2 linked regions of the Homo sapiens genome follow. The protein of the gene in region 1 purifies or fractionates together with the protein of each later gene. This does not show direct contact. Each region holds a gene or a part of one and is shown on either strand. Other genes may lie near its edges. The genes, in order: MLPH and RAB10.

The links.
Region 2: the proteins of MLPH (region 1) and RAB10 purify together in Homo sapiens (affinity purification with western blotting, with the first as the bait; one study listed by BioGRID). This does not show direct contact.

What each region holds. Positions count from the first base shown.
Region 1 is NC_000002.12:237,553,020-237,555,922, forward strand, and holds the end of MLPH (melanophilin), read left to right. Parts: intron 1-77; coding exon of another isoform or gene 78-104; exon of another isoform or gene 105-212; intron 213-546; coding exon 547-573; 3' UTR 574-2,303; downstream 2,304-2,903. UniProt on the Homo sapiens protein: Rab effector protein involved in melanosome transport. Serves as link between melanosome-bound RAB27A and the motor protein MYO5A.
Region 2 is NC_000002.12:26,106,782-26,110,612, forward strand, and holds part of RAB10 (ras-related protein Rab-10), read left to right. Parts: intron 1-2,986; coding exon 2,987-3,125; intron 3,126-3,831. UniProt on the Homo sapiens protein: The small GTPases Rab are key regulators of intracellular membrane trafficking, from the formation of transport vesicles to their fusion with membranes.

The sequences.
Region 1 (2,903 bases):
GCCTGGTTACAGCATTTTCTGGAGTTTAAGTGCCCTCCAGAGTTTTCCCATTGGTTACTTGGTTATACTCTATGCAGATGAAGGAGTGGCCCCAACCAATGTGATCAGTCGCAGGAGGCAACCAATCAGAGGCTGAAGGGAAGTTACAAAGTTACACATGAAGACTTGGCCGATGACCAGTCTGGTTGGTTGCGGGAGGGGACCAATCCGAGGTACTTTCCATTTTCATCTGAGATGCAGTGGAAAGGGGGTATAGCAAAGGGAGTAGCTGCTGAACCTTTTGTTCCTCAGGCATGGAGAGGTGGGGTTTTCATTTTGATTCAGTTCTAGGAAGTCAGCACGAATTGGCCTTAGGTTCCCTGCCTCCAGACCCTATTCTCTTGCCTCACATGCATGTGTGCACAAACGTGTAATCTAAATTTGTGTCTACAGATGTGCACATCCATGTACACACCTGTGTATTTGTATGTGCATGCCCATGTGTGTCTGTGTTACATGCCTGTGTATGTGTGTGCTTATATGTGCATGTGTGTTTGTACTTTACAGAAACCTGTGGTGGCCCACCAGTCCTAACGGGACAGGACAGAGAGACAGAGCAGCCCTGCACTGTTTTCCCTCCACCACAGCCATCCTGTCCCTCATTGGCTCTGTGCTTTCCACTATACACAGTCACCGTCCCAATGAGAAACAAGAAGGAGCACCCTCCACATGGACTCCCACCTGCAAGTGGACAGCGACATTCAGTCCTGCACTGCTCACCTGGGTTTACTGATGACTCCTGGCTGCCCCACCATCCTCTCTGATCTGTGAGAAACAGCTAAGCTGCTGTGACTTCCCTTTAGGACAATGTTGTGTAAATCTTTGAAGGACACACCGAAGACCTTTATACTGTGATCTTTTACCCCTTTCACTCTTGGCTTTCTTATGTTGCTTTCATGAATGGAATGGAAAAAAGATGACTCAGTTAAGGCACCAGCCATATGTGTATTCTTGATGGTCTATATCGGGGTGTGAGCAGATGTTTGCGTATTTCTTGTGGGTGTGACTGGATATTAGACATCCGGACAAGTGACTGAACTAATGATCTGCTGAATAATGAAGGAGGAATAGACACCCCAGTCCCCACCCTACGTGCACCCGCTCTGCAAGTTCCCATGTGATCTGTAGACCAGGGGAAATTACACTGCGGTCAAGGGCAGAGCCTGCACATGACAGCAAGTGAGCATTTGATAGATGCTCAGATGCTAGTGCAGAGAGCCTGCTGGGAGACGAAGAGACAGCAGGCAGAGCTCCAGATGGGCAAGGAAGAGGCTTGGTTCTAGCCTGGCTCTGCCCCTCACTGCAGTGGATCCAGTGGGGCAGAGGACAGAGGGTCACAACCAATGAGGGATGTCTGCCAAGGATGGGGGTGCAGAGGCCACAGGAGTCAGCTTGCCACTCGCCCATTGGTTACATAGATGATCTCTCAGACAGGCTGGGACTCAGAGTTATTTCCTAGTATCGGTGTGCCCCATCCAGTTTTAAGTGGAGCCCTCCAAGACTCTCCAGAGCTGCCTTTGAACATCCTAACAGTAATCACATCTCACCCTCCCTGAGGTTCACTTTAGACAGGACCCAATGGCTGCACTGCCTTTGTCAGAGGGGGTGCTGAGAGGAGTGGCTTCTTTTAGAATCAAACAGTAGAGACAAGAGTCAAGCCTTGTGTCTTCAAGCATTGACCAAGTTAAGTGTTTCCTTCCCTCTCTCAATAAGACACTTCCAGGAGCTTTCCAATCTCTCACTTAAAACTAAGGTTTGAATCTCAAAGTGTTGCTGGGAGGCTGATACTCCTGCAACTTCAGGAGACCTGTGAGCACACATTAGCAGCTGTTTCTCTGACTCCTTGTGGCATCAGATAAAAACGTGGGAGTTTTTCCATATAATTCCCAGCCTTACTTATAAATTCTATTCTTTGAAAAAATTATTCAGGCTAGGTAAGGTGGCTCATACCTATAATCCCAGCCCTTTGAGAGGCCAAGGTGGGAGAATTGCTTGAGGCCAGGAGTTTGAGACCTCCTGGGCAACATAGTGAGATCCCATCTCTACAAAAAACAAAACAAAAAAATTACCCAAGCATGATGGTATATGCCTGTAGTCGTACCTACTTACTTAGGAGGCTGAGGCAGGAGGATCACTTGAGCCCTGGAGGTTGGGGCTGCAGTGAGCCATGATCGCATCACTATACTCGAGCCTGGGCAACAGAGTGAGACCTTGTCTCTTAAAAAAATTAATAATAAATAAATGAAAATAATTCTTCAGAGTTCCTTTCCTAGCAGATGGCTATTCTGGAGATGTGTAGTGGAAGCTGCATACAGGCAGGTCAGGGATCCCTGAGGCTAGTGTACCCCAACCAGTACAGCTGCTGGCTCTTTGTTTCCAGCTAAAGATTGACAGAAGTCAGTGGTTTCTCTATGACTCCAGAGGGAGATTAGAGACAAGCATTTAAAATATTTCTCCAAAGTTTTATCCTCCAACAGTCTTATTTATAAGGGGAAAAAGAAAAAATTTTAGGAAGCGTTGAATGCACAGATCTCCCAAAGATGCTTCTTACAAATGAGCTATGAGTGTGCAGCAAAATTGCACTCCCCAGATAATCCAGTATCCAACATATTGCAATATAGCACCCAGATCACCAAGGGATACCTTGCCTCACTGCAGATTATTGGGGTGAAACACAATTTGACAGGTGTAGCTCCCAGCTCTCAGGGATCAAACCAACCATGCATTACAGTGTTGCAGTTTCACTGATTTTATGTCAAGCCATTGTTTCTGTAAGTTCCAAGGATTTTCACTTTCCAACAGCTCTATCCAAAAGAACCCACTTTACTGGGGGCCAAAAACCCATCCCCAAAAGAGTAATAGTA
Region 2 (3,831 bases), about 210 Mb from region 1:
GGCTGAGGTTGGAGAATCTCTTGAACCCGAAAGGCAGAGGTTGCAATGTGCCGAGATCACACCACTGCACTCCAGCCTGGGCGACAGAGCAAGACTCTGTCTCAAAAAAAGAAAAAAAGACCCATAAGGCTTTTAGAAGAAAATACAGGAGAAAATCTTTGGAACATAAGACTACGTGAAGAGGCTGGGTGTGGTGGCTCACGCCTGTAACCCCAGCACTTTGGGAAGCTGAGGCGGGCAGATCATCTGAGGCCAGGAGTTCAAGACCAGCCTGGCCAACATGGCGAAAACCCATCTCTACTAAAAATATAAAAATTAGCTGCATGTGGTGGCACGTGCCTGTAATCTCAGCTATTCCAGAGGCTGAGGCAGGAGAATCTCTTGAACCTGGGAGGCGGAGGTTGCAGTGAGCCAAGATCGTGCCACTACACTCCAGCCTGGGCAACAGAGCGACACCCTGTTTCAAAAAAAAAAAAAAAAAAAAGACTAGGTGAAGAATTCTTAGACATAACACTAAACACATGATCTGTAAAAGAAAAAAAAATCAGTAAATTAATTAGACTTTCACAAAATTAAAAGCTTCCTCTCTACAAAATACCCTGTCAAGGGAATGAAAAGACTAGCTACAGACTTGGAGAAAATATTTACAAGCCAGTGTATCTGACAAAGGACTTCTGTATAAAAAGAACTTTCAAAAGTCAGCAGTAAAAAGACAAAAAAACTGACAATCCAGGCCAGCCACGGTGGCTCACGCCTGTAATCCCAGCACTTTGGGAGGCTGAGGCGGGCTGATCACCTGAGGTCAGGAGTTTGAGACGAGCCTGGCCAACATGGTGAAACCCCATTTCTACTAAAAATACAACCGTTGGCTGGGCGTGGTGGTGGGCGCCTGTGATCCCAGCTACTTGGGAGGCTGAGGCAGGAGAATCACTTGAACCCAGGAGGCAGAGGTTGCAGTGAGCCGAGACTGTGCCATTGCACTCCAGCCTGGGCGGCAAGATCGAAACTCTATCTCAAAAAAAAAACCCCAAAAACAAAAAACTAACAATCCAATTAGAAAATGGGCAAAAAAAAAAACCAGACATTTCACCAAAGAGGACATGTGGATGGCAAATAAACACATGAAAAAATGTTCACCATCTTAGCCACAGGGAAATACAGATTAATGTGATGATGAAATATTACTATGTGCCCTCTTAGAACTACAGAAATAAAAAAGTGACAGCATCAAATGCTGGTGAGGATGCAGAGAAACTGGATCTTTTATATGTTGCTAGTGCAAATGTCAAGTGATAGAGCCACTCTGGAAAAAGTTGGCCAGTTTCTTACCGTTATACACTTACCATATTACCCATAAATAACATTCCTGGGCATTTATTTCAAAGAAATGAAAAATTATGTCCACATAGAAACCTGTAAATGAATATTCTTCGAACTTTGTTATAGCCAAAAACTGGAAACAACCCTGAATGTCCTTCCATGGGTGAATAATTAAGCAAATTGTGATACAGACATACCATAGAATGCTACCCAGCAATGAAATGGGACAGACCAGGATTATGTGCAAAACTTGAGAGGACTTCAAGAGCATTATGGTGAAAGAAGTGTTAAATGCCGATTTCAAAAGGTAGCATACTACATGATTCCACTTACGTAACATTCTGGAAATGAAAAAAATATAAACATAGAAAACAGATTATTGATCAGAGTTTAGGGACTATGGGGAGTAAAGAGGTGATGTAATAGTTCTTTGTCTTGTGGTAGTTACACAAATCTGTACATGTAATAAATTGTAGAGAACTATATATACACACATACACAAATAAGTGCATGTAAAAAAAAAAAACCCTGAAATCTTAATAAGGTCTGTAGATTGTATCCAATGTCCATTTTCTGGTTTTGCTATTATGCTGCAGTAATATAAGATGTTATCATTAGGAAAAGCTGGGTGAAAGGTACCCAGGACCTCTCTGCACAGTTTTGTAACTTCCTGTAAGGCTGTAATTATTTCAAAATAAAAGTTTTAAAAATATTAACTCGAAAGAGGAGCAGGGATAGTTGGAGAGATACAGGGTTGAGATTGGGGTCTTTTGCTTTATATTTATTTATTTATTTATTTATTTATTTATTTATTTATTTATTTATTTTGAGACGGAGTCTCGCTCTGTCACCCAAGCTGGAGTGTAGTGGCACCATCTTGGCTCACTGCAACCTGTGCCTCCTGTGTTCAAGCAGTTCTCTTACCTCAGCCTCCCGAGCAGGTGGGATTACAGGCACGTGCCACCATGCCGGGCTAATTTTTGTATTTTTAGTAGAGATGGGGTTTCACCATGTTGGCCAAGTGTCTTGAACTCCTGACCTTAAGTGATCTACACGCCTCAGCCTCCCGAAGGGCTGGGATTACAAGTGTGAGCCACTGCGCCCGACCTTATTTTTGCTTTTTTAAAAAAGATACTAAAACATGTTTGTAAGCTGATGAGATGATCCATAAAAGAGCAAAATGATGATACAAATGAGAGGGCATAGTTACAGGAGCAAAATACATCTTACACCTTTGGCTTTAAGCATTAAATAATGGAAAATACTACTATTTACATTTCTGTCTTATTATTTATAAGTGAGGTTATCTTTACAACTTTTGGTTAATGATTCTAAATGTAAATATGACTGTACTATGGTATAGTTCTCTAATGTTCTAAAAATCCTACCTGCTTTTGTGTTACATTATGGAACTAAATTATTAAATAAAATGAAATTTTAAGAGTTTCTATGGTGTTTGCTAGTGCTTATTCAATAAACTTGAGTTTTATGTGTCACTTCCTACTGTTTTCCCTTTCAGATTTTCATCCAGTATGGGTAGGTTATTAATTTCCTTCAACTAAAAAGTTTTTATATATACTTAGGAAAAACTATTCTTGTTTTGTCCTTTATGTGAAATGTAGTAATATCAAAATGCTTAATAGAAATTATTGGCTGTTTATTTCAGGGATACAGCAGGCCAGGAGCGATTTCACACCATCACAACCTCCTACTACAGAGGCGCAATGGGTATCATGCTAGTATATGACATCACCAATGGTAAAAGTTTTGAAAACATCAGCAAATGGCTTAGAAACATAGATGAGGTAAGACCTAGAACTTGTATAAACCCTTCATGAACACACATTTGTGTGCTTGGTTAGGAAGAATAAATATTCCAACTGATCTTCAGGATATAATGTACTGTTGAAGTCATTATTATTGAAGTATTTCTATTTTCTAAAAGTTAATGTTGGCCGGGCATGGTGGCTCATGCCTGTAATCCCAGCACTTTGGGAGGCTGAGGTGGGAGGATCACCTGAGGTCAGGAGCTAAAGACCAGCCTGGCCAACATGGTGAAACCCCATCACTACTAAAAATTATAAAAATCAGCTGGGTGTGGTGATGTGCACCTGTCGTCCCAGCTACTCAAGAGTCCAAGGCAGGAGAATCTCTTGAACCTGGGAGGTAGAGGTTGCAATGAGCCAAGATTGCGCCACTGCACTCCAGCCTGGGCAACAGAGCAAGACTCCGTCTCCAAAAAAAAAAAAAAAAAAGTTAATGTTGTTATTTGCTAATTTTTTCTTAAGTTTTTGGACAGTCTATCTAGAGCCCCATTCAAGACAATTAGTAAATTACTCCAAAACTCTGTATAGCCATCTTACAAGATGACCCCAAATAGAAGCTACCAGTGATTTTACAATGATTTTCTGGAAATGAATTTTTTCTTAATAAATTTTTATTGAATGAATGAAATGTCCGGTAGTAATTTTTTAAAACTTTATTTTTCATGTTATAGAAATATAATATTGC